Homo sapiens: one gene and its partners. The protein of the gene in region 7 purifies or fractionates together with the protein of the main gene of each other region. This does not show direct contact. Each region holds a gene or a part of one and is shown on either strand. Other genes may lie near its edges.

Region 1 (4,448 bases), on a different chromosome or scaffold from region 7:
AGAGGCCCTCTCAAGATGCCGATACCTTGATAATGGACTTCCCAGCATCCAGAACTATGAAAAATACATTTCTTTTCTTTACAAATTACCCAGTCTGTGGTATTCTGCTACAGCAACACAAAAGAGAAGACATGTATCATGAAATAAAAATTGTCAATATGTCAGATTTGAGGACACTTTTACAACATTAAAGGTATGGTTGAGACACTTCAGTTGGCATCAATAAGAGCTTAATCACCTAATGACTATGAAACACTCTAACCCTGGGGTATCCAATCTTTTGACTTTCCTGGGCCACATTGGAAGAAAAATTGTCTTTGGCCACGCATAAAATACACTAATAATTACAATAGCTGATGAGCATTTTTAAAAAAATCACAAAAAAAGCCTCATAATGTTTTAAGAAAGTTTATGAAATTTGTGTTGGGCCACTCTTACAGCCACCCATGGGCCACAGGATGGACAAGCTTGCTAACCTAACCAGCAGGATATGAGAGACTAAATAATCTTATCTCACTACGCACTAACACACACTGTGGCAAAATGCAAGTTCTTCATCAGTGTTAGATAAATACATACAGGAATGAATTTTGAAAAACAAAAACAAAAAAATCATGAGTTCGGCCAGGCGTGGTGGCTCACGCCTGTAATCCCAACACTGGGAGGCCAAGGTGGGCAGATCACCTGAGGTCAGGAGTTCAAGACCAGCCTGACCAACATGGAGAAACCCCATCTCTACTAAAAATACAAAATTAGCCGGGCATGGTGGCACATGCCTGTAATCACAGCTTCTTGGGAGGCTGAGGCAAGAGAATCGCTTGAACCCCGGAGGCGGAGGTTGCAGTGAGCCAAGATTGTGCCATTGCACTCCAGCCTGGGCAACAAGAGCAAAACTCTGTCTCAAAAAAAAAAAATCAATAGTTCAATGAACAACAAAATCACTTTTCAAATAGAGAATCAGTTCAGCCCAAAGTTCTTCAAGTTCCTGGTAAGCACAACCACTCCAGTGATTAAACCCTTGTCAAACTAGTACAGTCCCAAAAGTTTAATGACAGGATTCCATTATTAAAACAGGCATCCTTGATTATACTCCTTACTGCAATGGTTATATTCTACTGGGCTTATGCTTCTACTGGATTCAATTTTAAAGGCAAAAACTTAATAACTGTACTCAAACAAAAAGTTCCATATTAGTATTACTAAGTAGTTTTGGATATTATAGAATTTTAGAGTTAGATCTTTAGAGATCATCTCATTCAATTCAATACAGGAATTTGCTCTATACTATCCCTAGCCTAGTGGACCATCTTGTGTTGATTATACTACTTCAAAAGCCTCCAAGCAAACCCACTTCTACACTTATCCCTTCTCAATCTATTCTCTACCATCAGCTAGCAGAAACTTCTCAACACGGAAATCAGATCATGTTGCTCCCTGCTTGAAACTATTTGAAGGCTTCCATCTGCAAACTCCATAACCTGGCTCTTGCCAGCCTCAAAACCTGCCCTCACCTCACAGCTAATTCCCTCCTGTTTGCTCCTCCAGCTGCCTGGAATGCTCTTCCAATTCAATCCTCCCTATTTGCTCTTCCACGACCAGCTCCATCCATCTCATGCTTCAAATGTCAACTTTAAACAAACAACTCCTCAGAGAGGCTTCCTTTAATATATCTCTCCACCTAATTAACTGTATGTTTTCTTCACATGCCAGTTTTTAATTATTTATTGGCTTGTTTTTTAATCTATCTTCCCCATCAGACTGTAAGAAAGCTCCAGAAACACTGGCAACTTGTCTGTCTTTATTCCTCTCCAGTATCCCAAACAAAGAGGAGGCACTCAACAGTTATCAACTGAATTTATGGATGGTGACTCAAATTCTAAAATCTCTAGCAGTGGGAGACCTACTAAATAACAAAATAACTAACCTCAATTTTTCTTTCTCTGAACTGCAATCTGTCTTCTAGGTCTTAAATATCCTGTTACAACCAGCCAAATCAGGGCTGAACCCGTGAACTCGATCAGGACTGATTCCTAACCTTTTTCTTCTTTTTTTTTTTGGTTCGTGAACCCTTCTGATAAATCCTTTGAAGGCAATGGATGCTGCTTCTCCTCAAGAAACAGCACATGCACAGAAACAAAACATCCGAGAGGTTTCACTCCCTCAGGACCAGCACAGACCACAGACTAAAATTCTAACCTGGACGAAAAGAGGATTCACCAGTGCAATTTTTGAGAACTAAAGTCTTCAAAAATTAAATTTTACAGAAGACTACAGAGCATCTTCTTCGAAAAAAAAAAAAAAAGAGGACATTTCAGATGCCTTCAAACTACCTCACTTCGGAGGGTGCAACTGCAATCAGTAAATTTTCAAGTCTAAAAGAAACTTGGGAGATCATCGTCCAAAAACTGAAGGCCCAAAAGGTAGGAGACTCGTCTGTGGTCAAGTTAGCACAACAAGGCAGGTCTTTGGTCCCCCAACCCTGTGCTCTTTCCACTTAAATCCCGATGGTTTCTTACAGAGTTCTAATAGTCTGAGAATTGGAAGGGAGCGGAGAGCAGAGGGAAGGCTGGGGGGAGAGAGAGACGGCAGGACTGACAGGGAAGGGTCACTCTCCTTCCACTCTCCGGGAAGCGTGCAACACAGCCGGGGCAACCCGACTCCCAGCGCTCACCTGTCTGGGGCCCAGAGGCGGGTGGTGCGGTCTCGGGACACGGACACAAAGGCTCCCGGCGGATAGGCGCAGCACACCAGGCCCCGTACGTCCAGCTCGTGGCCCCGGAGCGAGCAGCTCAGCCGGTACCTGGTTGCGCCGCTCGTCATGGCCAGTGTCTGTCTGGCGCCCGGTGCCCAGGCACTGTGCGAGACCAGTCCGCAGGGGCGACTCGGAGAGCGCCGGGCCGCGGCGGGAGAAGAGCCTGCAGGTAAGGGGCGGCCGGAGACCGGAAGAGCCCGAGAGCCGGTACGGAAGGGCGGCTGGGAAGGGGCGCGCCGAGCGGGCCGAGTGACACAGCAAGCCTGACAGGCACTCCGGAATTCATCATCGGCCTCAGCCCTCCATGACGCAGAGTGTGTGCGTCCCAACCGCCGACGCCGATGCGGAGCTGAGCTGGCTTTCCTCCAGGGCTCTGGACTCCCTGCTGAGCAAGAGAGAAAGAGGCCCGCCCTTCCACCAGGACGCCTGACCCTGGGGTCCTTCCCAAACCCGGGTCTCTTCCGACTCCGGGCCCAACAGTTTGTGGTAAATCGGGAAGCGGGCCGGGACTACAATTCCCATAATGCCGCGCCAGCTGGCGTGGACATCCGGCGCGCCGAATCCGGATATTTTAAACCTGAGTCTTTCGCGCTGGGCATGGCGGAATGGCTGAGTGAGGTTGTTTGGTGTCTACTGTTAGGTCATCCTCACTGCTTTTCCCTGAGAATCTCGAGGTTTTTGCAAGTTAACCTTGTTTTTCAATTAAAACGAGAAAGCTTGAGGCCAAATTGGGAACTATTAATCATTGAACTATTCCTCCGTTTCAAGTTATCTGAATCTCCTACTCTCTGTTGTCAAATTTAGCAAATACGGTGGTCCAAGTCAATTTTTTAAAGGTATAACTACTTTTCTCTGGCGGCTTGTTAAAATGTAGATTCTGATTCAGTAGGTCTGAGTTAGAGCTGAGATACGTATTTTTAACAACCCCGCCGCCCACCCACCCGTGGTGCTACTTGCTAGTCATTATCAGACCTTATTGAGTGCCAGGGTAAACATGACCTGTCTCCTTACTTTGTTTTCTTCCCATCCGCTATTCTCTCGCATCCAACTACACTTTTCCACAAACCTTTCTAAATTGCTAAGCCCAATTCACACTTTTCTGACTTCTCCCTTCCTAAAACTCCTACTCTAGGTTTGGAATCACTTTTCCCCTGGTTTGGGAGATCATTCTTGAAATGCTGACTTTTGATACTTCTTTGCTATCATATCCCCTCCCTGGGTGGATTATTTACTACTTGGCTTATTTCTAGAGCTGTATTCCCATATTGTCTTCTCCAAACTCTAGATCTGTATTTCTAGCTATCTGTTAGAAATCTGTACCAATTAGTCCTACTTAAATTATTTCAACATTTCTCTGGCCTTTCTACCCCTTCTCTCCAGCCAATCCTACACATTAAAATATAATTATCTTTCTGAAATATACACTTAATTGTTTTTTCTCTGTTTGACAACCTGTGATGGCTTTCCATTATTTTTTTTTTTTTTTTTTTTTTTTTTTTTTTTTTTTTTTTGAGACGGAGTGTCGCTCTGCTGCCAGGCTGAGTGCAGTGGCGCGATCTCGGCTCACTGCAACCCTCGCCTCCCGGGTTCAAGCGATTCCTGCCTCAGCCTCCCGAGTAGCTGGGACTACAGGAGCGCGCCACCATGCCCAGCTAAATTTTGTGTTTTTAGTAGAAACGAGTTTCACCATGTTGGC
Region 2 (4,517 bases), on a different chromosome or scaffold from region 7:
GCTCACTGCAAGCTTTGCCTCCCGGGTTCACACCATTCTCCTGCCTCAGCCTCCCGAGTAGCTGGGACTACAGGCGCCTACCACCATGCCCAGCTAATTTTTTTGTATTTTTAGTAGAGACGGGGTTTCACCATGTTAGCCAAGATGGTCTTGATCTCCTGACCTCGTGATCCGCCCGCCTCAGCCTCCCAAAGTGCTGGGATTACAGGCGTGAGCCACCGCGCCCGGCTTCTTCATTCTATTTTTGAGAAAATTGAGACTCATATAGCTCAAAATGCATTGCCAAAGATCACTCAGCCAGTAAGTAGAATGGGACTAAAATCCAAATGTTTTGGTTTGAAACTTCATGTTCTTTGTAGTGCACTATACAGCTATGCCTTATCTGTTCCTCTTTTTTAAAAAAGTATTTGTTATAGTTGACACATGATATCGTACACATTTATTGGGTACATAGTGCTATTTCAATACACACAATGTACAGTGATCAAATCAGAGTAATTCATATATTCCTCACCTTAAATATTTATCCTTTCTTTGTGTTGGGAACATTCAAACGCCCCTCTTCTAGCTATTTTAAAATATATAGTAAATTATTATTGACTACAGTCACCCTACAGTGCAATGGAACACTAGGACTTATTCCTCCTATCTAGCTGTAATTTGTGTCCTTTAACCACCCCCTACCCTTCCCAGCCTCTAGTGATTACTATTTTATTCTCTAGCTCCATGAGATCAACTTTTTTAGCTTCTGCATATGAGCGAGAACATTTGGTATTTATCTTCCTGTTCCTGGCTTGTTTCACTAACATAATGTCCTTCAGGTTCATCCACCTTGCTGCAAATGACAAGGTTTCATTCTTTATGTGAATTTAAGGGTTATTTTCCTTAAGCTAGAATAAAGTATTGCCTTATATACACAATGGAGAAGGGATTTATTTGTACAGATTATTTATTGATTATTTCTTTAAGGGATTTATTTGTAAAGACCAAATATGTTTGGATTTTCAGATTGTCTAGCAATATTATCCTCCTGGATAACCCTGATACCAATCAATTAACCGTCTTCTAACTCTCCTCCTTCCCTCCCTTACCTTTTCTACACCTATTACCTAAGCATTTGAGGTACGCCAAAGGAAATAAAAAAGTACTCCTCCAGGAAGCAGAGTACAGACAAAAGAGGTAATGAATACTGTAATGATCTAAGTGCTATATATTCCTATGTGCAAACTGCTATGGAACTGTCACGTACTAGATGCTATGAAGTTAATAAAAGAATTGAGTAAAGGTCCCTGTCTTTGATAACTTATATTCTATTTGGAGAAACATGGGGGGTAAATCTTGGCTAATAACTAGCAAATATAACATGTTAGGCCAAGGAGTAGAGATAATTAAGAGAACTAGTCGAGAAGGCATTGGCTATTAAAAAATGGACAGGATTTATGCAAACTCTCATGAAAGGTGGGACTTCATGATCCTACAGTCAATCTAGCTGTTCTGGGCTTTGAACCCCAGCGACCCCATCCAGAAGAAACCAGGAGAAGCACAAACTGGCGCTAGGTTCGCTACCATCCACCTGACCCTTGAGCCCGGGGAAACCCACGGGTGCAGCAAGCCGGGAAAGCTGCAGACGAGGCAGGCGGAAGAGGCGGGACTTCGCGGGTGACGTCATCGGGGCGCCGGAGGCCCGGGGCGCCTGGGAATTTGAAGCAAACAGGCAGCGCGCGACAATGGCGGTCGCTCGTGCAGCTTTGGGGCCATTGGTGACGGGTCTGTACGACGTGCAGGCTTTCAAGTTTGGGGACTTCGTGCTGAAGAGCGGGCTTTCCTCCCCCATCTACATCGATCTGCGGGGCATCGTGTCTCGACCGCGTCTTCTGAGTCAGGTGCTGGCCTAGGAAGGGAAAGGACAGGGCTTGGTGGCGGGAAGGAGGACAAGGAAATGGAAGAGGGTGACAGGAGTTGGGCCGTGAGTGAGAGCAAAAGAGCCAAGCAGGCAGACCGACCCTACTCTTGGTTTGGGGAGTAAGCATGAGAAGCACAGAGGCCAGGGGTTGGGCTCCTCGAGAGTCGTCTGTTCTTTCACCCACACGCTTAGACACGTGTTTTGCAAAAGTCGGGAAACCCAGTTTGGAACGCTTTCTGGCACTGAAGCACACTTGAATGAATTCTGTATATTTAACTCTTTAAGAAAATTAGACTTGCGGCCGGGCGTGGTGCCTCATGAGAGTAATACCAGCACTTTGGGATGCCTAAGTGGGCAGATCACCTGAGCCCCAGGAGTTCGAGACCAGCCTGGGCAACATGACGAGACCCCGTCTCTACAAAAAATTAGCTGGGTGTGGTGGCGCACGCCTGGGACGCTGAGGTGGGAGGATCACCTGAGCCTGGGAGGTCAAGGCTGCAATGAGCTGTCATTGCGCCACTGCACTCCAGCCTGGGCGACAAGTGAGACCCTGCCCTCAAAAAACAAACAAATAGACCGGGAAAACGTGGGTAGGCAGAGAATTCAGTAGCTGGGAAATTACTGGTGAGAAAAGGAAAATAGAACAACCAGAACTCTGTGATGTATACAAAATTTATCAGAGCCCAGAGAGACTTCAACCATACTCCCCTATGCAGCCCCGGGACAATTATTTAAAGGAATTTTGTCCCTGACTAGCTGCCTCTCCCATTATCTTAATGTACCTGGAATGTGTGATACAAAGAACAATGTATAGCTAATCAATCGCTTGTGTTATTATTTTATTTATTTATTTTTTAGATGGGATCTCTCTTACGTCACCCAGGCTGGAGTGCAGCTCTGTGATCATAGCTCACTGCAGCCTGGAACTCCTGGGCTTAAGAGATCTTCTTGCCTCGGGTGAGCACAGGGGCTCATGCCTGTAGTCCCAACTTTGGGAGGCTTTCTTTGGGAGGCTGAGGCGGGTGGATCACTTAAGGTCTGGAGTTCGAGACCAGCCTGGCCAACATGGTGAAACCCTGTCTCTACTGAAAATGCAAAAATTAGCTGGGCATGGTGGTGCACACCTGTAATCCCAGCTACTCAGGAGGCTGAGGCAGAAGAATCAGGAGGTTGCAGTTAGCCGAAATTGAGCCACTGCACTCCAGCCTGGGCAACAGAGGGAGACTGTCTCAGAAAAAAAAAAAAAAAAGAGATCCTCTTACCTCAACCTCTGAGTAGCTGGAACTACAGGCATGTGCCATCATGCCCACCAAATTAAAAATTTTTTTTTTTTGTAGAGAGGAGGTCTCACCATACTGCCCAGGCTCGTCTCAAACTCCTGGCCTCAAAAGATCCTCTTGCCTTGGCGGCTTCCCAAGTAGCTGGGACTACAAATGCCTGGTGCCACCCCCGGGCTACCTCCTGTTATTTCAATGCAAATTCTTGGTGAATATAGGAACTGCCCCTTCTTTTGCTTTAAAAATCCACTTGTAACTACTGTAATCGAAGCCTATAGTCAGGGCAACTACTCATATTAATTTTGCCTCAGCCTCTTCCTGTTAGGTCCACACTTGGAAGGGCTGTTTGGAAAGGGGAGTTGAATTTTGCACTGTGCGGCCAGAAGCAATAATTAAGACTAGAAGGTGGACATATTGGGAAAGCAGGTTTTTAGTCAATATAAGGAAAATTTTTGTACAAATTAGAGGTTTCTAATACAGTGCTTCTCAACTTTGAGTATATATGAATTACCTGGGAATTTTGTTAAAATGCAGAATCCATTTCTGTAGCTCTGAGACTAGACCTGAGGTTGTGCATTTCTAACAAAGTGCCAGCTGAAACTGCAGACCACACTGAGTAGAGGGCCGTAAATATGCTTTCCAATACAGTTTGCTACTAGCCACGTGTTACTATTGAGCATTATGAATTTTTAAGTTTAAATAGTCATATATGGCCAGTGGCTATCATATTGGACTGCAAAGATAGAGAACATTTCCATCATTGCAGAAAGTTCTATCAAGAAGACATATAAGTTTCCTCAGCCCACTTAAGGGTTTATGTTCACTAGGGACCACTTTGTGTGGTTATTGTAAAAAGTATTGAAGATAGGTTGGACTATTAAGGTTGCGGTACTTTGGACCATTAACTTCTCACCATCCAGAATCTTGCTATGGTGTATCTTAGCAATGTGGAGAATTACTAAGGATTTTCTAGGGAAAAATTGATTTATTTTAATAAGCCAGCTGATAAATGACAGAAAAAGTTTTTTGATAACTAGATCATGGTGTGTGTGTGTGTGTGTGTGTGTGTGTGTATTTTGGTGATTAACTGGGGAGGAGTTCAAAACATGGAGAGACTTGGGTATAACAAAACTTCTTTTCACATCTTATGCGAATAGAATTTCTCAGTATTTACACCCCAAAAAGCAATATAATTTATGCTAAACTCTAACTTCCCTTAATAAGTGATAATAAGTGATATTTGACTATAGTACTATATACACATTAGTGTACATAAAGTAATTGGAGAGGAAAGGTAGCATTAACTCACTAAAAATGCATTTTCCAAATCTGTTTTT
Region 3 (4,396 bases), on a different chromosome or scaffold from region 7:
CACGCGGGTGTAGACCCCGGGCTTCCCTGGCTCCCCGCAGCCGTCCCCCCAGGAGGTGACTCCGAACAGGACCTCTCTAGGGCGGGGGCCAGGCTCAGAACAGGTCAGGGGGCCTCCCGAGTCACCCTGCGGGGCCAAGAGAGAGGACGCTGCATTCACCTGCCCCCTATGACGCCTGCCTTACGCCTGGCAGGTGTGAGCTTGCCACTTGTGTCCATTTTAGGGATGAGGACAGAGAGGCTCAGAGAAGTCGAGTGACAGACAGACGTGGAAGGAAAAGAGGCCGTAGTGGCCCTGGGAAGGCTCAGCCGGCCTTTTCTCATCAGACTGGGTTCATACCTGGCACGAGTCAACGCCCCCCGCCAGGTACCCGGCGCAGAGCATGGTGCTGGGGCGCAGCCCGGGCCCCAGGGCTCTTCGGCAGGTGTCGGTGCTGAGCAGGGGAACACGGGCCTCTCTCACTGCTTCAGCCTCAGGCCCGTCTGCAGGGAAGGGGTGGAAGGCTCAGGTTTGGAGGGCAAGAGCCCCGCCTTGAGGGTCCCCTTCCCACCACCCCCCTTGATTCCTCCCCCTTTGAAAGAGCAGGCAGCATTTTTCCAAGGCAACCCGGCCTCCCTACACTCTATTACCTCGGACCCCCAGTTCTTCCCACCACGCGCCGGCTCACCCACGCCCAGTACCTTCGAAGAGGGCGCCCCAGCCCGCGATGGCGCAGGCGGTTCCGGCAGGGGGCTCCTGGGGCTCCTGGGGCAGGCACACGGGGCGCGCCGATCCCCCCGGGCTCACCGGCGTCCACAGCTGCACCAGGGCCAGGTCGTTGTGGAAGGTCCGCGGGTCAAACTGAGGAGGGGGAGGCGGCGCAGGGTCAAGGAAGCACGGGTGGGGGTGCGGTGCCCAGCCTTGGGGGCCTGGGGACTGCCTTCTCACCTTGGGGTGGGGCAGGATGCGGTTCACTGGCACCTCCTCCGCTTGCTCCCCCCGGGACCCCTCTGCCAGCGTCACAGTCCACAGAAGCTCATTCGGGGCGCTGCGGGTCGAGCGGCAGCTGAGACGCAGGAAGGACAGGGGCACACCCCGCAGGCCCCTCGGAGACCCTGCCCCTCCGCCCGCATGCCGGGCTTTCTCCACCTGGGGGCACGGAGGGCGGGCCGGGGAGGGGTCCCGTCCCAGAGGGGGCGAACTCGCCCGGCCGTGCCACCCCCTCCGGGCTGGCATCCTGGCGGGGCGGGCGCGGCGCCTTGAGATGGGGAAGCCCGGGGCCGGCCGCCGCCAGGGGGCAGCAGAGACCACCTTTCCCGCGCGTCGCCCGCCGGACAACCCGGCAGGTGCGGGGCCCAGCGCCGGGGACCCCAGCTGGGCAAGGCCTGGGGGTCCTACTTACCCTACAAAGCAGTGCGCTGCCGTGAGCACCCAGGAGGCCGCTACCAGGACGCCGCCGCACAGAGGCTGCCCGCCGAGCTGCAGCCTCACCAGCCAGGGCCAGGCCCCGGGCGGCGCCGCGCTGCCCCCCACGATGCGGCCGTGGGCCCGCGTCACATTGGCAGTGCTCGGACGCCTCTCGCCGCACGGCCCTAGAAAGGGGCAAGGGGTGTCACGAGGGACATGTTCTGGCCATCCTCGCCTTCGAGGCCCACCCGGCTCTCAGGCCTGCCCCCTCGAGCCTTTTCAACCTCACCTGGCTCAGGTGGGTCCTGGAGGAGAGCTTGAGGCCTGGGGCGCCCAGATCCTGCAGAGAAACAGACCTTTGAGTCTCACTGCTGCCCTCTCGCCTGTCCTCACCCCAGGCTGGGCCGAGCCTCTCTCTCCCCATCTCTCCTTTCGCGCTCAGCCCTCCAGCCCACACGGGTTCTATTTCAGCAACCATGAACTTCTCCTGGTCACCACAGGAGCCCAGAGTGTTTCCGCCTCCCTGCCTTTGCACAGGCCATGCCCCAAGCCTAGCGTGTCCTTTCCACTCGGAGAGACAGACCTTCACAAACGTAGTCTAGGTTGCGGCCCAACACAGTCTCTGCCCCCAAGAGGAGAGTGAAGACTGAAGGGAAGGGACAGAGGCAGCAGAATGGGCCCAGGGTAGGCAGCAAGCTCACTGGGGCACGGGGGGCAGGGTGGGCACCTCGGCACTCGTGCGATCTGTGCTGGATCTCCATCGCCACTCGGTTTATTGCCCACTGGGCGCTCCTCTGGGCTGCCTGCAACGCCTGAGTCCCCTGGGCCGACAGAACTGCTGGGACAGGGGGCACACAATCATGCGTGGTTGGGGAAGAGCCTCAGCCTCATCCTCCTGGCCCCAGCCCTGAGCCCTGCCTCGGGAGACCCACCAGCCTGGGACAGAATGAGGAGGCAAGTGAGCCCCGGGGACGCTGGGCCCAGCACTCAGAGCCCGTGCTCCCAGGTTCTCAGCCCAAGATGTCTCCCTAATTCAACTGAGCTGGACTGGGATCTTTGAAAGGTGCTTTTCCTTAACAATTTTTTTTAAAGACACCACCCCAAAGATACAGACATCGCAGAACTCAGCTTTATTGACTGAAAGTAGCTGTGTTTGAGTGGCCCACCTTCGGCCGGGACAGCCAAGGGCAGGGTGCTGCCCCGGGCCGTTTCTCTCTGCTTCTTGGGGCCTTCTCTCCATTCCTTTCGGCATGCTCAACAGCTCCCCTTCCCTTTCCCGCCACACCCCTCCTCTCCCACCTATATCTCAGTTCTTGGCCCCTTCTCGCAGCAGGGTGGGCAGAAGGAGCCAAAGGTCCTTATGAGTGGGGGTGACAAGCTCTTCTGTCCCCGCCCGCCCAGGGTCCCACTTCCTCTACATTCCTCCCAACCCCGCGGCTCTCGGGCCAGCCTGGACTTACCTTGCAGGGCGCTGGGGGGCAGGCGTGTGTACAGTGGGTGCCCGTGGGCAAACCATGAGCTTGGGAGGGGTAGCAGCAGCAGCACAGCCAGCAGCATGGTGACCAGGAGCTGGGGTGAGAGACCCCTGTCCTCTCTCCTCCTCGGAGTCCACCTTCCGGGTGCCTATCCTTTGGTGCCCGCCTTCTGCTGCCTTTCGGCCCCCGGGCACTGAATTCTTGTCCCTCAAATCATCTGACCCCGTTCTCTTACATCAAAATTACCCGCCTCCCTGGTCAGCCCTCACCTGGCCCTTAACTCCTAGGAGCCCACAGGGGAATGGGGCTGCAGGGTCTTTATAGAGGACAGCCTGGGGGAGGGGTGCACGGGAGGGTGGCCAAGACTGGGGGAGGAGTGGGGTAGTGGGCTTGACCTTCACCTCTGAAGTCTCATCATCCCAGCTCCGAGCCCCCCTTCTGTCAAAGGAGCCCTTGTTTCTGCGGCTCCATCAAAGGGGCCAAGACAGGGAAGAAGGGCTGACGGTTGGGCTGCAGGCCAGGCAGAGGGGGGCTGCTGGGTGGGGGCGGGCCCTGGCTCCAGGGCTGGGATGGGGGGGGATCCCCATCTGCCTCTACCCCCTGAGGAGCTTACAGCTATGACGGGGCAGACACTCCTGGAGGGAGGAGGGCAGGGGGTGTCTGGGGTTTCTCAGCAGCCCCACCCCCTGAGGAAGCCCTGGAGCTCCCCACCCCTCTGCCCCTAATTGCTTGGCAGAGTCCCTCCCCAATGTGGCCATTTCTAAAGATGATCAAAGCAGCCTAATTAGCGCCGTAATTGCCGCACTGGGGGTGGTGGGGTGGGAAGGGGCAGAGGCAGGCAGCCGCAGGAGTGGCGCGGAAAGGGAGGCGGGAGATGAAAGGCCCACAGTGGCCCAGTTCCGGGAGGACAGGCCCTAGCAGCTTCTGACGCTCTCCCAGACCCCCTGGCCCTGCACAGTGCCCGCTCTGCCTGTCCGGCATTGTTCTGTGACCCTGATCTGGCAGTGGGATTCTTCTGGAGTCCTCTGGAGTCTCATGGGCAGGGCCACACAGCTCTCCTGGGACTGAGTTACCACCTGGGGTAGGATAGTGCCCGTCTGCGCTGCCCAGGCTCCCCAATTCATGTGAGGTGAACTGGTGGGAATATTTATCAGCAAATGCTATGACCCGGGGCTCTTTCCCCCTGGAGAGCCAGCTGTTCCACAGTGACCAGCACACCATGCTAAGGAGCCCTTTCCCCAGTTACCACCGCACCTCGCCATGACAATACCTCTACTTCAGGAATGCTCTGAAAATACTGTCTGCGGATGATTCTGGTGAGTGAATTTGGTGAAGTTGGAAAGGACTCTATTCACCAGAGTATCTGTCCATCTTGCAGGGTATCTTTTTATCCATGACCTCCACAATCTTGGTAGATAAGGCATTAGCTCAACACAGCTTGAATTTTAGCATAAACAGAGACAGTGTCCAAAGGAAGATCGCCTGCGGTTCCCAGTAAGAGCCACCAAAGCAGGGGACCCAGGAGCAGAGAAGGT
Region 4 (4,579 bases), on a different chromosome or scaffold from region 7:
GAAACCCCATCTCTACTAAAAATACAAAAATTAGCCAGGCTTGGTGGCACGTGTCTGTAGTCCCAGCTACTCAGAAGGCTGAGGCAGGAGAATCGCTTGAACCCGGGAGGCAGAGGTTGCAGTGAGCCGAGATCACACCACTGCACTCTAGCCTGGGTGACAGAGCGCAACTCCGGCTCAAAAAAAAAAAAAAAAAATTAAGAGGTCATCTGGGAATATCTGGAAAAAAAGAATAAAATTTTCTTCTCCTCTTAAGATCTTTAAAAGAGAAATGATGGTTGAAAGCAAAAAATTTAATATTGTCTGATGGGGATTTCAATGTATGTAGATTAATAAATATGACAATTACAACATAAAGCAGTGAGAGTAAAGGGACCTATATGGTGATAAGTTTTCTACATTCTCCTTAAAGTGGTAAAATATTAACTCTAAGTACACTATGAAAAGTTAGGGATGGATATTCTAACTCCTAGAGCAAGTACTAAAAAAACCTACATGAAGAAATATAGTAAAAAACTCTATTAAAATGAAATATTGGCCAGGCACAGTGGGTCACACTTGTAATCCTAGCACTTCATGAAACCAAGGAGGGCAGATCACCTGAGCTCAGGAGTTCAAGACCAGCCTGGCCAACATGGTGAAACCCCGTTTCTACTAAAAATACAAAAATTAGCTAGGTGTGGTGACGCACACCTGCAATCCCAGCTACTTGGGAGGCTGAGGCACGAGAATCTCTAGAACCTAGGAGACAGACGTTGCAGTGAGCCGAGATCACACCACCGCACTCCAGCCTGGGCAACAGGGCAAGACTGTGTCTCAGAAAAAAAAAAAACAAAAAACTAAAGCATATTCAAATAATCCCAAAGATGGAAGAAAAAGAGAGGAAAAAAAAAAAGCAGAAACCAAATTATAATAAAATGGTAGCCCTAAATCAAACCATATCAATAATTACATTAAATGTAAATGGCCTAAATATACCAATTAAAAGACAGAGATTGTCAGAATGAATAAAAAAAAAGACCCAGCTACATCTATTTATTAAAAACTTACTTTAAATAAAATGGCATAGGTAAGTTAAAAGTAAAAATAAAAGTAAAATGTAGACCTACTCATAACTCCCCCGAACTGGAAATAACACAAATTCTCACAGATGCATGGCTAAAAACTACCATACATCCATGCAATAGAATATTACTTAGCAATTTAAAAAATTATTGGTACACACAACAAAATGGATTAATCTCTAAGGCATTATGCTGGGTAAAAGAAATCAGTTTCAACAGTTACAAACTATATGACTCCATTTACATGGCACTTCGGAAAAGGTAAAACTATAGCAATTAGGAAAGATCAATGGTTGCCGACAGTTGGGGTGGAGGCAGGGCAACATCAGGGAGTTTTTTAGGATGATGGAACTGAGGAAGCCATGGTTGTGGTGATAGTTATATAAATCTATACATATGTTGAAATTTATAGAACTGTACACCAAAAGTCAATTTTACTGTATGTTAATATTTAAAAATGAAGTAAAATAAAAATTACGTGGATGATCTCCATGGACCCTTCCAGACTATGATTCTATCAGTGAGAAAAAGAAAGGAGAGGCAAAAGGAAGACAAGGAGAATGTTAAGTCCTACTGGCATAAAAGCCACTACTCAGAAGAACGGGATTACTGTACAAAAATATACAAAACAAACCCAATCTTCAGAATTTATTCCCAGAAGGGGCTAAGAAAACCGGACATTCGGATCTAAAATATGTATATTTTTAAATGCCTATGAATAGCTTTTCTTGTCTGTTTCTATATTTTTTTACTTTGAAGAAGCTGCCAATTTCTGCTGGCTTAATGCCAATTTCGCTGCTTGGGGTTACTCAATTTACAAGCATCCCTTTATTTATACCCTATACTCTAGGGTCTCCGGCAGTCACAATAACGACTCTGAAAAAGCAGTCGCTTTTGCAGGGTGCCAGAAAGATCAGCGCTCCTCACCCGGAACTAAGGTCCCTGTGGGACACAGTACACCCCGTCCACTAGTTCCAAACTTAAAAGACGCTGGGCGGAAGGTCTTCCCAAGTCAAAAAGCCTCCCAAAGGAGAAGGACCCTGGAGGCCGGGCTTCGGGGCATTTCTGCGTCTCCGGACTGCCCTGTCGCCTCCGGGGCAGCTAGCCGTTTTGAGGACTGTCCTGGTGTGGGGCTGTGGGCTGCAGAAGGTTCTGCCCAGCGACCTTGGGCAAGTCCCTTCCTCTCCTGGAGTAAGAGGAAAATTCTGGGAAGGCTGTGTAAGGGAGCTTCCCATTGCCGCCTCAGAATCCACTTTCTGCCCCCCGCTCTCCAACGCCAAGAAGGAATCACACTTGGCCCTCCAGACTTCACCCCAGCCTTATGCCCGCCACCCTTCCCAGTCCCTGGGAGACCCGCGGGAACTAACACATCCAACCGAGGGCATGGCCCGAAGGCAAGGGGGAGGCAGTAAACACCAAATCCCGGTCTCAGACCCACTCCGCCCCAAGCGGGCCTACCGGGCGCATTCCGACCCGCCCCGCCCTGCGGTCACGGCCCGCCAGGTCCCGCTTCCACCCAAGGGAAGTACAGAGCGCGCCGGGGAGGGTCGGGTGGGGGGCCGGGTCAGGAGGCGCCCACCTTGAGCTGGGACTTGGAGACCTTGCCGCTGTGGTCCTGGTCGAGTGCGGTGAAGGCGTGCCAGATGGCTTTGAGCAGCTCCTCCTTCAAGCTCCCCATGGCCGCGGCCCTGCTGCCCCGCCAACCCCTCCTGCCCAGCCAGCCCCTCCGCGCCTCGGACGCCCCTCAACCTCCGCAGCCACAGCCCGCCGCGCAGTCACCTGACCCGCCAGGCCCCGCCCCCGCCAGGCCCCGCCCTGCTGCCGGCGCCGGTCCAGTGCCGCGCCCACAGCCGCCAGAGTGTGGGTTCTGCGAGTCAAGCCACGCCTGGTGGCAAGAATGCTTGGCCTTCAGTGTCAGCCAGGACGGTAAACACATCTCCCTAATGTTTCCCAGACCAGTTCGGGCCATTTTGGGTGCTCGAGTACAACACCTCACACAAATGACCGCGTCTTGAGGAAAAACCCGAGAGATTAGGTGAGCAGCCTACCCGCCTCCTCCCAGCGCCCCGCAGTGAAAAAGGGATCCCTGGTCCTGTCCTGGGAACGGAGTCACTGTCTGAGAAGGCCAGAGAAGACCCCGAAAAGTCCCCAGACCAGGACTGAAATGATAGCGCAGTCCCAAGTCGGGGAGATGCAGGGCGGCGGGGAGGCAGGAAGGACCTCGAGGGAAGTTTGTTGGTTCATTTCGCAAAAGTTTATTCATGCATACTCTATCTTGGGTTCTAGGGACACAGCGACGACGTTTAAGGGGAGTTTAGAAGTCAGGGTCAGGCAGCATTTTCTTCCTAACGCCTAGCTGTTGTTCAATTCACATCTTAGGAGGGGTTTGACCTGGGTAATACCTCTCTGTAGTGTTTCTCTGCTTGCAGAATAGGAGATCTGGGCCAATTCCAAATCACTCCACCCATTTTACTAATCCAAAGAGATGGACCATTTAAAAGAACGTATTCGGCCAGGCGTGGTGGCTCACGCCTGTAATCCCAGCCCTTTGGGAGGCCAAGGCGGGCGGATCACCTGAGGTCGGGGGTTCGAGACCAGCCTGACCAACATGAAGAAACCCCGTCTCTACTAAAAATACAAAATTAGCCGGGCGTGGTGGCACATGCCTGTAATCTCAGCTACTCGGGAGGCTGAGGCAGGAGAATCGCTTGAACCCGGTAGGCGGAGGTTGCAGTGAACCAAGATCGCGCCATTGCACTCCAGCCTGGGCAACAAGAGTGAAACTCCGTCTCAAAAAAAAAAAAAAAAGTATTCGATTGCAGCTGTTGAATTAATATCTGTTCGCGGTGGTCACAATGGTCACTTGATCTCTTTGGGCTTCAAATTATCCCGTATAAAAAGAGCAGGGTTGCACCAGATGTTCTGGAAGGGTTCTTGCAGTACTAGCATCCTAGGATAATAACTATTGCCGGTTAACTAAGGTCTGATTAAATCGCCAGGCTCAGTACCTCTCCTCTCCAATCCTGGACTAATTGGAGAGAACAATAAACACCAAGAGTTTTTAAAATGAGGTGGTTCTCAGATGAAGTTTGGTTTTGTTTTGCTTTTTTAAGTTCCTTAATGCACATGTTTGCCTTATTAAGAAAGGAAAAGATCTTCATAAGAAAGGGATATTTGGAAAGAGAAGAACAAGAAGGAGCCTCTTCAGTGAGTTTGAGATCAAAAAGGAACTGGTGGGGAAGAGGAGAGGATGGCCCCACTGACGAAAGAAGGGGCAGGAGCAAAAGGGTGGCCAGCCCCTCACTGTGACTGTCCTGAAGGTTCTACCCCATTTCATCACCATTTGTCAGGACTTTTCTTGCCCTACCAGAATCCAATTTCTATCATTTATCTTCCCCATTTCCAGCCCAAGTCTGCCAGTCAGCAAAACCACATGGTTTAACCTCTGATTTATTCATGCGAAGTCAGCTTACCCTGAGTAGCAAAAAAAAAAAAAAAAGAAGAAGAAGAAAAAA
Region 5 (3,871 bases), on a different chromosome or scaffold from region 7:
TTGGAGGTGCGTGTCGCTGAGTCTCAGCTGACACAATGGTGTGCGCGCCCCTCACGTTCCACGGCCCCTGCCTAAGCCCGCCGCGCTGATCATGGTGGCAGGGTGGGCACTCACTTCCCATCGTCGTCGCCCAACCCCAGCTCAAAGATGCGCTGGGCGCCGAGCTGCTCCAGCCGCTTGTCCACGTACTTGCCCATGGCATTGAAGTGCTCGTAGGTCTTGTTCCCAAGACCAAACACCTGCGTGGACACAGGGGCCGCTCTGAGGCCTGGCCCTCGACCTGACCAGTGGGAGGGGCCATGGGGGCAGGGCGGGAGGCCCCACAGCACTGGCTGAGCTGCTGGCAACACCTGCAGGCCTCCGTTCCACCAGGCGCCTCGCACTGCAAGGAACACTGGGCCACTGAAGAGGCTTCATCTGGTTGACCTGCAGCCCACAGCCTGCCCCGTCCACTGCCAGCCTCAACCCACAGGGAAGCGGGGCCAGCCCACCCTCCCCACCGGGCTGGGGCTCCAGCTCTCCGAGGCCAGGCAGGTCTCAGTCGTCCAGCCAGACCTTTCTTGCCTTTAGTCTCCAGCACCCAATGCCCCCTGGAGCCGACTGGGGCTGGGGACAGGGAGGGGACATTCTCGTAGTGCTGGGGTCTGGGGCAGAGGAGAGGGTCTCACAAGTGGCCTGCCCTGGCTGCTGAGGACAGGGTGGGGGTCTGGAGGGCTGCCTTTCAGATACATGGATCTGGAGTCCCCAGGGAGGCACCGCAGGCCACCGGGAGCCCATAGCAGTCTCTGGGTGACTCACCGCGAACTTGACCCCAGAGAGATCCACGTCTGTCTCCTGCAGCCAGTCGTAGAAGTCCTGGGCATTGTCGGTGGGGTCTCCCTCACCGTAGGTGGCCATGCAGAAAACCACCAGGGCGTTGTCGATCTCTGGCAGGCTGCTCAGGTCGGCCTGCAGAAACAGGGACAGGACCGCGCCCCGGCCATGACTGAGCCTGTTCAAGGTTCAACCCGCACCAGATGGGGAAGGCCAGGTCCTGCCCAGGGTGGCACCAGGCCAGGGATGTCTGAGTGTCGTGGGATCAGAGAGAAGTAACAACACGGAGGGGCTGGGGCATGGGCATTTGTGCCAGGTGGGCAGGACAAGGTCACCCGTGTTAGGCTGGAGCGGAGAGGATGTGTTTCTAGAGGAAAGTGAAGCTTGGCACAAAAGAGCCATCAGAATGCAGCCTCCTGAGCTGATGCAGGTCTGGGGCCACCCTGGGAACCTCATTCCAAAGCTCCCAGGCACCGCACAGCCCCGGTGCACACTGATATCTAACTAAACTGTTCATCAACTGCAAATGCAGCCTGGAGAGGGCTGTGGGGTAGTGCCCGTCACCAAGACCTCGAAGGAGAGGGGAGTGGAGCAGCTGGGGAGGGTGGGTTTGGTTTGGGAGATGTGGCGGCCGCCAGGAGGGCAGCCGGCACTCAGGGGAGGGCCAGTCCTGGGGAAACGATGCCTGGCACGTGGCTGCAACTGCAGGAATGGCCCTTCCGTCAGTCAGCCCGGGCAGGGATGGCAATGACCCTCACGGGAAGGCAACTTCCGAGGACGTCTTCCCAGGACCCCACTCCCTGCCGGCCTCCCCCTGCTGAGGGGCGCCCTACAGACCTGCTCCCTGTCCTACCCACTGCCTCCATCTGGGGCCAGCACGCGGTGGCAGCTTACCAGGTCATACTCCTCAGGGTCCGCTGACATGCCTCGCATCCCGTAGCGGTGGGCGTCCTTGGACAGGCGGTTGGCAAACTCCTCTGCAGTCCCCGTCTGGGAGCCGTAGAACACGATGATGTTCCTCCCCTAAGGAAGGCAGACACAGGGTTGGTGAGGGCCACAGACCTCAGCCACGGCTCCGGTGAACACCCACTGGGCAGGCCTGGCAGGCGGGGGCCCTCCAGGCCGCCCCCTTTCCTTCCTGGCTTTGAGTCCCTTCTAAGTTCCTCTGGGACTTGCTTCTCACTGTCACAGCCACTGTGGCAAAGGAGGGCAAAGGTCACCAAGGCAATCTCACACACGCGGCTGCTCAAGATCACACTTCTGACATTTTCATGACACGGGGAAAAAACAAAGTTAAAAAAAGTAACCAAATGTATAGCCCCTATCCGTGGGGGAATGGTTCCAGGACCTCCCATAGATACTTACATCCAAGGATGCAGCCGGGCGTGGTGGCTCACACCTGTGATCCCAGCACTTTGGGAGGCTGAGGCTGGCAGATTACCTGAGGTCAGGAGTTCAAGACCAGCCTGACCAACATGGTGAAACTCCATCTCTACTAAAACTACAAAAATTAGCCGGGCATGGTGGCGTGCACCTGTAATCCCAGTTACTAGGGAGGCTGAGGCAGGAAAACAGCTTGAACCCAGGAGGTGGAGGTTGCAGTGAACTGAGAACACGCCACTGCACTCCAGCCTGGGTGACAGAGCAAGACTCCACCTCCAGTGGCTCACGCCTATAATCCCAGCACTTTGGGAGGCCAAGGCGGGTGGATGACTTGAGGTCGAGAGTTCAAGACCAGCCTGACCAATATGGAGAAAACCCTGTCTCTACTAAAAATACAAAATTAGCCGGGCATGGTGGCACATGCCTGTAATCCCAGCTACTTGGGAGGCTGAGGCAGGAGAATCGCTTGGACCTGGGAGGCAGAGGTTGTGGTGAGCCGAGATCGCGCCATTGCACTCCAGCCTGGGCTACAAGAGCAAAACTCCATCACAAAAAAACCCAAAAAACAAAAATCCAAGGATGCTCAAGTCCCTGCTATAAAATGATGTGGTATTTGTGTGTAGCCTACACACATCCTCCAACATACTTTAAATCATCTCTAGATTACTTATTAATGTAATACTTAATGTAATGTAAATTCTCTGTAAATAGTTGCTATGCTGTATTGTTTAGGGAACAGTAAGATGACAGTATGTGTTCAGGACAGACACAACAATCCATTTTTTCTCCAAATATTTTCAGTCTGCAGTTGAATTCTTGAACTCCGAACTCACGGATATGCAGGGCTGGCTATACAATCCAATTGTGTTATATAAATAATAGATATGTATATCAAAACATACATATGTATTTTCTTTCTATACCCACAGGCACAAAGAAAACAGACTGGCAAGAAATATACCGAGGGTCCCTAAATGGGGCATTCTGGATGTGTTTTGCTGGTTAAATACATATTCATTATAAAATTTTACAACAGGGAAAGGTCCTAGGGGCTGGCTCACATACTCGTCAGTCCACCCTCCTCCTCCAGCAGCTGTTGAAAAGCCTGAAATCCTATTCCCCAGAGCCCGTTGGGGCTGGAGTTGCAGCCAATTCGGTTCAGCCAATTGAACGTGCTTTGCAAGATCTGAAGGGTGGAAGGGAGGCCAAGGCTTCCTGGCCCCTCATGCACATGTGAGGTTCTCTGCAGTGCCTGGTCTTCAGTGCCTAAGGCATTTTTCTTTTTTTCTTTTCTTTTTTTTATTTTTGTGTGTGAGACGGAGTCTCGCTCTGACGCCCAGATTGGAGTGTAATGGCACGATCTCAGTTCACTGCAACCTCTGCCTCCTGGGTTCAAGCAATTCTCGTGCCTCAGCCTCCTGAGTAGCTGGGATTACAGGCACCCACCACTATGCTAGGCTAATTTTTTTGAATTTTTAGTAGAGACTGGGTTTCAACACGTTGGCCAGGCTGGTCTCGAACTCCTGACCTCAGGTGATCTGCCCACCTTGGCCTCCCAAAGTGCTGGGATTACGGGCGTGAGCCACCGCACCCAGCCACCTGAGGTATTTCTAATAGTTTTGGTAGCCAGACTGCAAGTTCCTAGTCCTGGCTACTGGCTTATGTGATGTTCAGA
Region 6 (3,871 bases), on a different chromosome or scaffold from region 7:
TGTAGAAGACAAACTTTAGGTAGCAACTTATGAAAATATTCCATTTTGTTCATTTTTAAGAATAAGGTATAATGCAAAGTCCCTTGTGTTTCAATGATCAACATGCTTCACAATCACACATGTGGGAAAACTCTACTACTAAAGAAATCCCTTCCTAGAAAAGTGTATCAAAGAGACTATACATTCTAACTCTGATGGTCACCATAGATTCATGTTTTACAAATTGTATAACACATGATATATACATGTATACACACACACACATATATATAGCTATAGCAACATTCCTGTATAACTCACCTTTACAAAGTTGCAGAGAAGTCAAAGAAACTCATATTAGCAATAGCAAAAAGAACAAGTATATATACATTTCAACCACTTAACCAACAATTTCTTAATGTATAACAAACCATTGGAACATAATGCTACTGGCATACAAGATTATGCTGCTGTCTTAAACAATTCTCAAATTCTTGATACTCAAGCCCTCTTTAAGTCGAATTCCCTACAAAGATTCAAAGACTACTCACCTGACTAGGTGTGCCCTTATTTAAGTGCAGTGTTGGTGCAGAATCCCCTAAAAGAGATTTCAGTGGTTTGACCTCAGGTGTGCTGCTTGTGCTACTGGCAGAGGACCCTGAAATAGATGCATGAACTGATGCCACGACTTTGGCTTGTTCTGGCGGGACATACCTAAAACATGTAAAAAACAGTTAACTAAAAAAAAATGTAGGTAATTCTATATCAAAAAATGATAAGCTTAATTCTAACTTTGTACAAGATTGTTTCACCATTAATCTTATCTGAAAACCCTCTCACACAGAATAACTTTGCATATTTTTTAAAAAAGGAACGACAGCTTAAGACTACACCCATTAAATATTTGAAATACTCAGAGAAAAGAGAAGACTAACCACAAAACTTGTTTCAATTACTTATTTATGGTTTTTCTAAGATATTAAGTACAATATAAGAAATAACTGCTTTTTTTAAACAGAGGACCTACAATTAGTCATCACCATGAATAGTTCATACTATAATTTTTAAAATTATCTTAAGATCTAAATAACATTTGAAGAAAGATGAGGTAGGAAAACATTTGTAATATTACAGTTAACAGCCTAAAATATAAAGGCTTATTACATCTGTAAGAATAAGATCATCCCATTTTAAATGAACAAAAGAAGCAATTCACAGAAGACAGGAGACACAAAAATGAAAACACTTTTAACCTGACAAAAATGCAAATTAAGGTTTTATTCACCTATGAGCTAAGTGTGAACTTTACAATTTTTTATTGCTACCTACTAAAATATATAAATAGGTGTGCTTTGTGCACCAGAAGTGCCACTTCCAGAAACATCCTTAAGAATTGGTAAGTGTATACAGATGCATGTACACATGGATGTTAACCACAGTCCTCTCTTTATAATTTCACAAAAACTGGGAAACAAACCCAACATCTATCAAGGAAAAAAAATTTACGATAATACAATACTCATAGCTACTCTGCTTTGACATGGAAAGAGGAAACTTCACAGGTCTTTCAGATTTGATTCCAGTCATATAAACACATGATTTATGTGAGGAGGCGAGTCAAGAAAGGAGAGGTAGCAAGGATATAATAATGTCCAAACATAGGCAATCCTGACCTCTAGGTGTGGGATTATGTGAGAGCTTTTGCTCTTTGTAATTCTGGGTTTTGTCCTACCCTCCTTCTTATTCCCCATATGAAGTAGGTGAGGAAAGAAGGAAAACCATGCTTAAGAGCACCTGTTCCAGAGACAAGAGTTCAAATCCCAGCTCTACCACTAAATGGCTGTGAAACCTTGGGCAAACTATTAATACTTCAACTCTTTGTGCTTCCATTTTTTTCATTTATAAAATGGAGAGGCAGAGTTGCCTAGGTTTAAACAAGTTAACATTTGTAAAGCACTGAGAACAATTCCTGGTATACGTGTTAACTAAGTGTTCACTGTCACTAAACTACATAATAATCACAAACAACTGCTTTCAAGTAAATGGGAGAGATAAAAGATGTATGAGAATGAATACAAGAAGTTATATTTTCCCATAATTTAGCATACTACTAATACAAATTCTTCAGTATAGCCAAGTCTTATCAAAGGATAAAATCAAATGATAGTTATTGGTTCAAAAGACTCACCTGGCAAAGTAATATGCTACCATATTTTTACTATCAACCCACCTTCTAGGATTTTCTTCTTTCCTGAACTTAAATTTTACTGGTGTATTTTAATCTATTTTCATACCTGATGTCTTCTAGTATAACACAGAAAGTGATTTTGAGAACTGGTCAAAAGAACAGTTTCAAAATCCCTTTGGATAACACCATCATCACTGTTTTAAGTATAGTTACAGTGAGTATTTTTAGAGATGCTGCATCTGGATAGTGCTTATTCCATGTTAGAAACCAATTTCACTGCTTGCTAGCTGTATGTTACAGGTGTGCAGCAGTCTGGATTAAAAACATACAGGTCCTGGCCCTCTTAATGATGGTCACCTGTCCCACCACTTGAAGTCTCTATTTGTATAACTCTTATTATCCTGTTTCTCAGGAAAGAAAAAAAATAACATAAACTGTAATTATTTGAGGTTTCTAGGTATTTGCGTTATAGTTTGAATGAATAATACATTACTGTTATAAATGTGGGGGTAAGGATCTATGATTTTAATTCTACCAACTGTTACTCACACTCACTTTTCTGTTGATAGCTAGAGCTGACCATAAACTAATCCCTAACCAAACTCACTTTCTGAATTGGTAAAAGTAACACGGCTGAGAAAACAAAACTAGGTTAGGGCTATGTAAGGAGAACAGTCTTTCCTACAGGGTAGAATGTCTAGGAAATTCAGAACCAAAATGATAAAAGGATAATTATACCTTTCATTTTAAAAGAATCATTTATGCTACCATATTTTTACTACCAACCCACCTTCTAGTATTTTCTTCTTTCCTGAACTTAAATTTTACTGGTGTATTTTAATCTATTTTCATACTTGATGTCTTCTAGTACAGCTGAATATAGCCCTGACTAATCTTGCCTTGCAAAAAGTAGTCTATTTTAGGCCGGGCACAGTGGCTCACAACTGTAATCCCAGCACTTTGGGAGGCTGAGGCAGGTGGATCACCTGAGGTCAGGAGTTCAAGACCAGCCTGGCCAACATGGCGAAACCCTGTCTCTACTAAAAATGCAAAAAATTAGCCAGGCGTGGTGGTGGGTGCCTGTAATCCCAGCTACTTGGGAGGCTGAGGCATGAGAATTGCTTGAACCCAGGAGGCGGGGGTTGCAGTGAGCCGAGATCGCACCATTGCACTCCAGCCTAGGTGACAAAAGCAAAACTCAGTCTCCAAAAAAAAAAGAAAAATGTAGTCTATTTTGGAAAGTAGTAAGAATACAAATTTTGATAGAGCATGCAAGTCAGAGCTAATGTGCTCCTGAATGAAGGTAAAGACCTCTGCTGTAAACCACAACAAATGTTCCCTCAGGACCAAAACAGGCTCTGAACAGATTCTCTTGGGTTGAAACAGAGTTCCTCAAGCAAACAAGAAGCTCGTTACTTCCCCATTATTTATTCCCTCTATTTTGACTCTCTGCCCCATCTTGTTAACCTCCCAAGATGAAAGTATCCACTATGCAATACTATTAAAGAAATAACCAAAAGTTCATAGTTAATGAGTCTTAGTAACTTAAATTGTGCTCATATAGCTAAAAATGAAGAACCCTCAGTAGCTGAACACTAGCTTTATAGATATAGTCCCTATTCCATAGCAAGGGGCTTACTAGCTATATGTACAACCTGTTGGAATTAATTTTTAAAAATTAACATCTGATAGATTTAGTTAGGG
Region 7 (3,871 bases):
AGAAACAGAACTACCATCTGCTCCAGCAATCTCACTCTGGGTATAAATCTAAAAGAACTGAAAACGGGATCTTGAAGCGGTATCTGCATACCTGTATTGACAGCAGCACTATTCACAATGGCCAAGAGGCAGAAGCAACCCAAATGTCCCTCAACAGATGAATGGATAAGCAAAATGTGGTGTATACGCTCAGTGCGGTATTATCAGTCTTAAAAAGGAAACCCTATCACATGCTATGGCATGGGGGAACCTGTAGGAAATTATGGTAGATGAAATAAGCCAGTCACAAAGGGACAAATACTGTATAATTTCACTTATATGAAGTATAAAAGGTAATCAAATTCGGCCGGACACAGTGGCTCACGCCTGTAATCCCAGCACTTTGGGAGGCTGAGGTGAGTGGATCACCTGAAGTCAGGAGTTCAAGACCAGCTTGGCCAACATGGTGAAATCCCATCTCTACCAAAAATACAAAAATTAGCCAGGCGTGGTGGCGCACACCTGTAATCCCAGCTATTCAGGAAGCTGAGACAGGAGAATCGCCTGAACCCAGGAGACAGAGGTTGCAGTGAGCTGAGATCACGCCACTGCACTCCAGCCTGGGCAACAGAGCAAGACTCCATCTTAAAAAAAAAGGAGTCAAATTCATAGAAACAGAAAGTAAAATAGAGATTGCTGGGGCTGCAGGGAAGGGATAAGGGGAGTTGTTTACTGGATAGTTTTGGTTTCACAAGATGAAAAAAGTTCTGGAGCTATTTCATAACAATGTGAATGAATATACTTAACACTACTGAACTGAACACTTAAAAACAGTTAAGATAATAAATGTTGTATGTTTTTTTACCACAGTAAAAAAAATATTTTTGACCACACACAGTGGCTCATGCCCATAAATCCCAGCACTCTGGGAGGCCAAGGCAGAAGAATGGCTTGAACCTAGGAGTTCAAGACCAGTCTAGGCAACACAGCAAGACCTCATCTCTACAAAAAAAAAAAAAGGAAAAAAAAATTAAGTTGGGCGTGCTGGCACACACCTGTAGTTCCAGCTACTCAGGAAGCTGAGGTGGGAGGACTACGTGAGGCTAGGAGGTCGAGGCTGCAGTGAGCCGTGATTGTGCCACTGTACTCCAGCCTGGGTGACAGAGATCCTGTCTCAAAATAATTATTACAAAATAAAAAAATTTTAAGAGGAAGTTAACAAAATACAAATGGACAATATACAAATGAAAAGATGCTTACTTCCCTAGTAATGTAAAATGCAAATTAAAATGTCTTTCGGCCAGGCATGGTGGCTCACGCCTGTAATCCCAGCACTTTAGGGGGCCGAGATAGGTGGATTATTTGAGGCCAGGGGTTCAAGACCAGCCTGGCCAACATGGTGAAACCCCACCTCTTCTAAAAATACAAAAATTAGCCAGGCGTGGTGCTGGGCGCCTGTAGACCCAGCTACTTGGGAGGCTGAGGCAGGAGAATTGCTTGAACCCAGGAGGTGGAGGTTGCCGTGAGCCGAGATCGCACCATTGCACTCCAGCCTGGGCGACGGAGTGAGACTCTGTCTCAGAAAAAAAAAAAAAAAAAAAAGTCTTTCTACCTCTCAGGTTGGCAAATGTCTATAGACTGATAATATCCAGTCCTCCTAAAGGTATGAAAAGCAGAAGTTCCTATATTGCTAGTGAAAATACACATGTCTAGAAGAAATTTGGCGATACTGGTTCAGCTTTTCAGATGTTCGTACCTATACTGCAACTCTCCCTCTAATATAAAGAAGTGTGTACAAGCATGTTACTGAAGGGTTATTTGTAATCACAAAAAAATGGAAAACCAGCCAATGTCCAATAACAAGAAAATTTTTAAACTGCAGTCCATCCATACAGTGGAATACTACCCAGTCAGAATAAAATATAGAAAGATGTCCAAGATACACTTTGGACAAAAAAAAAAAAAGCTAGCTGCAAAAGTTTATATACAACATTCCCCTTTTTGTTAAAAAGAAGTTTGTATTTATTTTTAAAAATAGAGGAATATGCACCAAACTGTTCATAATAATTATTTATCGGGATTATAGGGAACATTTGCTTTCCATATTACATATCTTGCAATGTTTGAATGTTTTTTGTTTTAACTTTTAGGTTCAGGGATAGATGTGAAGGTTTGTTACATACGTAAACTCATGTCACGGGGTTTGTGGTACAGATTATTTCATCACCCAGGTATTAAGTCCAGTACCCAATAGTTATCTTTTCTGCTCCTCTCCCTCCTCCCACCCTCCCCTGCTCAAGTAGCCCCCCGTGTCTGTTGTTTCCTTCTTTGCATTCATAACTTACATTTAGCTCCCACTTAGAAGTGAGATCATGTGGTATTTGGTTTTCTGTTCCTGTGTTAGTTTGCTAAGGATGATGGCCTCCAGCTCCATCCATGTTCCCACAAAAGACATGATCTTGTTCATTTTTATGGCTGCATAGTATTCCATGGTATATATGTACCACATTTTCTTTATCCAATCTGTCACTGATGGGCATTTAGGATGATTCCATGTCTTTGCCATTGTGAACAGTGCTGCAATGAACATTCACGTGCATGTGCCTTTATGGTAGAATAATTTATATTCCTCTGCATATTACACCCAGTAATGGGGCTGCTAGGTCAAACAGTAGTTCTGCTTTTAGCTCTCTGAGGAATCGCCATACTGTTTTCCACAAAGGTTGAACTAATTTACACTCCCAGCAATAGTGCATAAGGGTTCCCTTTTCTCCACAACCTTGCCAGTATCTGTTATTCTTTGACTTTTTTATAATGGCTATGCTGACTAGTGTGAGATAGTTTCTCATTGTGGTTTTGATTTGCATTTCTCTAATGATCAGTGATGTTGAGCTCTTTTATGTTTGTTGGTCGCATGTGTGTCTTCTTTTAAAAAGTGTCTGCTCATGTCCTTTGCCCACTTTTTTTTTTTTGAGACGGAGTCTCGCTCTGTTGCCCAGGCTGGAGTGCAGTGGCACCATCTCAGCTCACTACAAGCTCCGCCTTCCAGGTTCAAGCAATTCCCTGGCCTCAGCCTCCCTAGTAGCTGGGATTACAGGTGCCTGCCACCAACCTGGCTAATTTTTGTATTTTTAATAGAGACAGGGTTTCGTCATGTTGGCCATGCTGGTCTCGAACTCCTGACCTCAGGTGATCTGCCCACCTCGGTCTCCCAAAGTGCTGGGATTACAGGTGTGAGCCACTGTACCTGGCCTTTGCCCACTTTTTAATGTTGTTGTGTTTTTGTTTTTTTTTTTGAGATGGGGTCTCACTGTCATCCAGGCTGGAGTGCAGTGCTGTGATCTTGGCTCACTGCAACCTCCTGCCTCCCAGGCTCAAGCAATCCTCCCACTTCAGCCTCCCAAGTAGCTGGGACTACAGGCGCACACCACCATGCCTGACTAACATTTTGTATTTTTTATAGAGATGGGATTTCATCATGTTGGCCTGGCTGGTCTCAGACTCCTGGACTCAAGCCATCCACCCACCTTGGCCTTCCAAAGAGCTGGAATTACAGGCATGGGCCACCAAGCCCTTTTTCTTTTCTTTTTTTTTTTTTTAATTTATTACTTGCAATTATAAAAAAAAAAAAAAAGAATAAAATCCCCAGCAAGAGACTAAAGCTGAGTGGCCAAGGCAGGAGTTGAGGTTAGGAGTTTGACACCAGCCTGGGCAACATAGCAAGACTTCGTCTCTACAAAAAAGTTTAAAAATTAGCCAGGGCCGGGCGCAGTGGCTCACGCCTGTAATCCCAGCACTTTGGGAGGCCGAGGCGGGTGGATCACCTGAGGTCGGGAGTTCGAGACCAGTCTCAACATGGAGAAATCCCGTCTCTACTAAAAATACAAAATTA

What was found.
Region 1: the proteins of RMC1 (region 7) and PLAA purify together in Homo sapiens (affinity purification with mass spectrometry; one large-scale study listed by BioGRID and IntAct). This does not show direct contact.
Region 2: the proteins of RMC1 (region 7) and UMPS purify together in Homo sapiens (affinity purification with mass spectrometry; one large-scale study listed by BioGRID and IntAct). This does not show direct contact.
Region 3: the proteins of RMC1 (region 7) and PRSS56 purify together in Homo sapiens (affinity purification with mass spectrometry; one large-scale study listed by BioGRID and IntAct). This does not show direct contact.
Region 4: the proteins of RMC1 (region 7) and SWAP70 fractionate together in Homo sapiens (co-fractionation; one large-scale study listed by BioGRID). This does not show direct contact.
Region 5: the proteins of RMC1 (region 7) and POR purify together in Homo sapiens (affinity purification with mass spectrometry; one large-scale study listed by BioGRID and IntAct). This does not show direct contact.
Region 6: the proteins of RMC1 (region 7) and AGFG1 purify together in Homo sapiens (affinity purification with mass spectrometry; one large-scale study listed by BioGRID and IntAct). This does not show direct contact.

What each region holds. Positions count from the first base shown.
Region 1 is NC_000009.12:26,944,226-26,948,673, forward strand, and holds the start of PLAA (phospholipase A-2-activating protein), read right to left. Parts: upstream 3,018-4,448; 5' UTR 2,821-3,017; coding exon 2,672-2,820; intron 1-2,671. UniProt on the Homo sapiens protein: Plays a role in protein ubiquitination, sorting and degradation through its association with VCP. Involved in ubiquitin-mediated membrane proteins trafficking to late endosomes in an ESCRT-dependent manner, and hence plays a role in synaptic vesicle recycling.
Region 2 is NC_000003.12:124,728,745-124,733,261, forward strand, and holds the start of UMPS (uridine 5'-monophosphate synthase), read left to right. Parts: upstream 1-1,707; 5' UTR 1,708-1,727; coding exon 1,728-1,883; intron 1,884-2,761; exon of another isoform or gene 2,762-2,860; intron 2,861-3,694; exon of another isoform or gene 3,695-3,772; intron 3,773-4,517. UniProt on the Homo sapiens protein: Bifunctional enzyme catalyzing the last two steps of de novo pyrimidine biosynthesis, orotate phosphoribosyltransferase (OPRT), which converts orotate to orotidine-5'-monophosphate (OMP), and orotidine-5'-monophosphate decarboxylase (ODC), the terminal enzymatic reaction that decarboxylates OMP to uridine monophosphate (UMP).
Region 3 is NC_000002.12:232,519,146-232,523,541, reverse strand, and holds the start of PRSS56 (serine protease 56 isoform 2 precursor), read right to left. Parts: upstream 3,155-4,396; 5' UTR 2,944-3,154; coding exon 2,847-2,943; intron 2,222-2,846; coding exon 2,114-2,221; intron 1,727-2,113; coding exon 1,676-1,726; intron 1,572-1,675; coding exon 1,382-1,571; intron 1,028-1,381; coding exon 928-1,027; intron 841-927; coding exon 681-840; intron 483-680; coding exon 340-482; intron 127-339; coding exon 1-126. UniProt on the Homo sapiens protein: Serine protease required during eye development.
Region 4 is NC_000011.10:9,662,343-9,666,921, reverse strand, and holds the start of SWAP70 (switch-associated protein 70), read right to left. Parts: upstream 2,846-4,579; 5' UTR 2,743-2,845; coding exon 2,644-2,742; intron 1-2,643.
Region 5 is NC_000007.14:75,977,416-75,981,286, reverse strand, and holds part of POR (NADPH--cytochrome P450 reductase), read right to left. Parts: intron 1,837-3,871; coding exon 1,708-1,836; intron 949-1,707; coding exon 799-948; intron 240-798; coding exon 115-239; intron 1-114. UniProt on the Homo sapiens protein: This enzyme is required for electron transfer from NADP to cytochrome P450 in microsomes. It can also provide electron transfer to heme oxygenase and cytochrome B5.
Region 6 is NC_000002.12:227,520,585-227,524,455, reverse strand, and holds part of AGFG1 (arf-GAP domain and FG repeat-containing protein 1), read right to left. Parts: intron 694-3,871; coding exon 531-693; intron 1-530. UniProt on the Homo sapiens protein: Required for vesicle docking or fusion during acrosome biogenesis. May play a role in RNA trafficking or localization.
Region 7 is NC_000018.10:23,509,727-23,513,597, reverse strand, and holds part of RMC1 (regulator of MON1-CCZ1 complex), read right to left. Parts: intron 1-3,871. UniProt on the Homo sapiens protein: Component of the CCZ1-MON1 RAB7A guanine exchange factor (GEF). Acts as a positive regulator of CCZ1-MON1A/B function necessary for endosomal/autophagic flux and efficient RAB7A localization.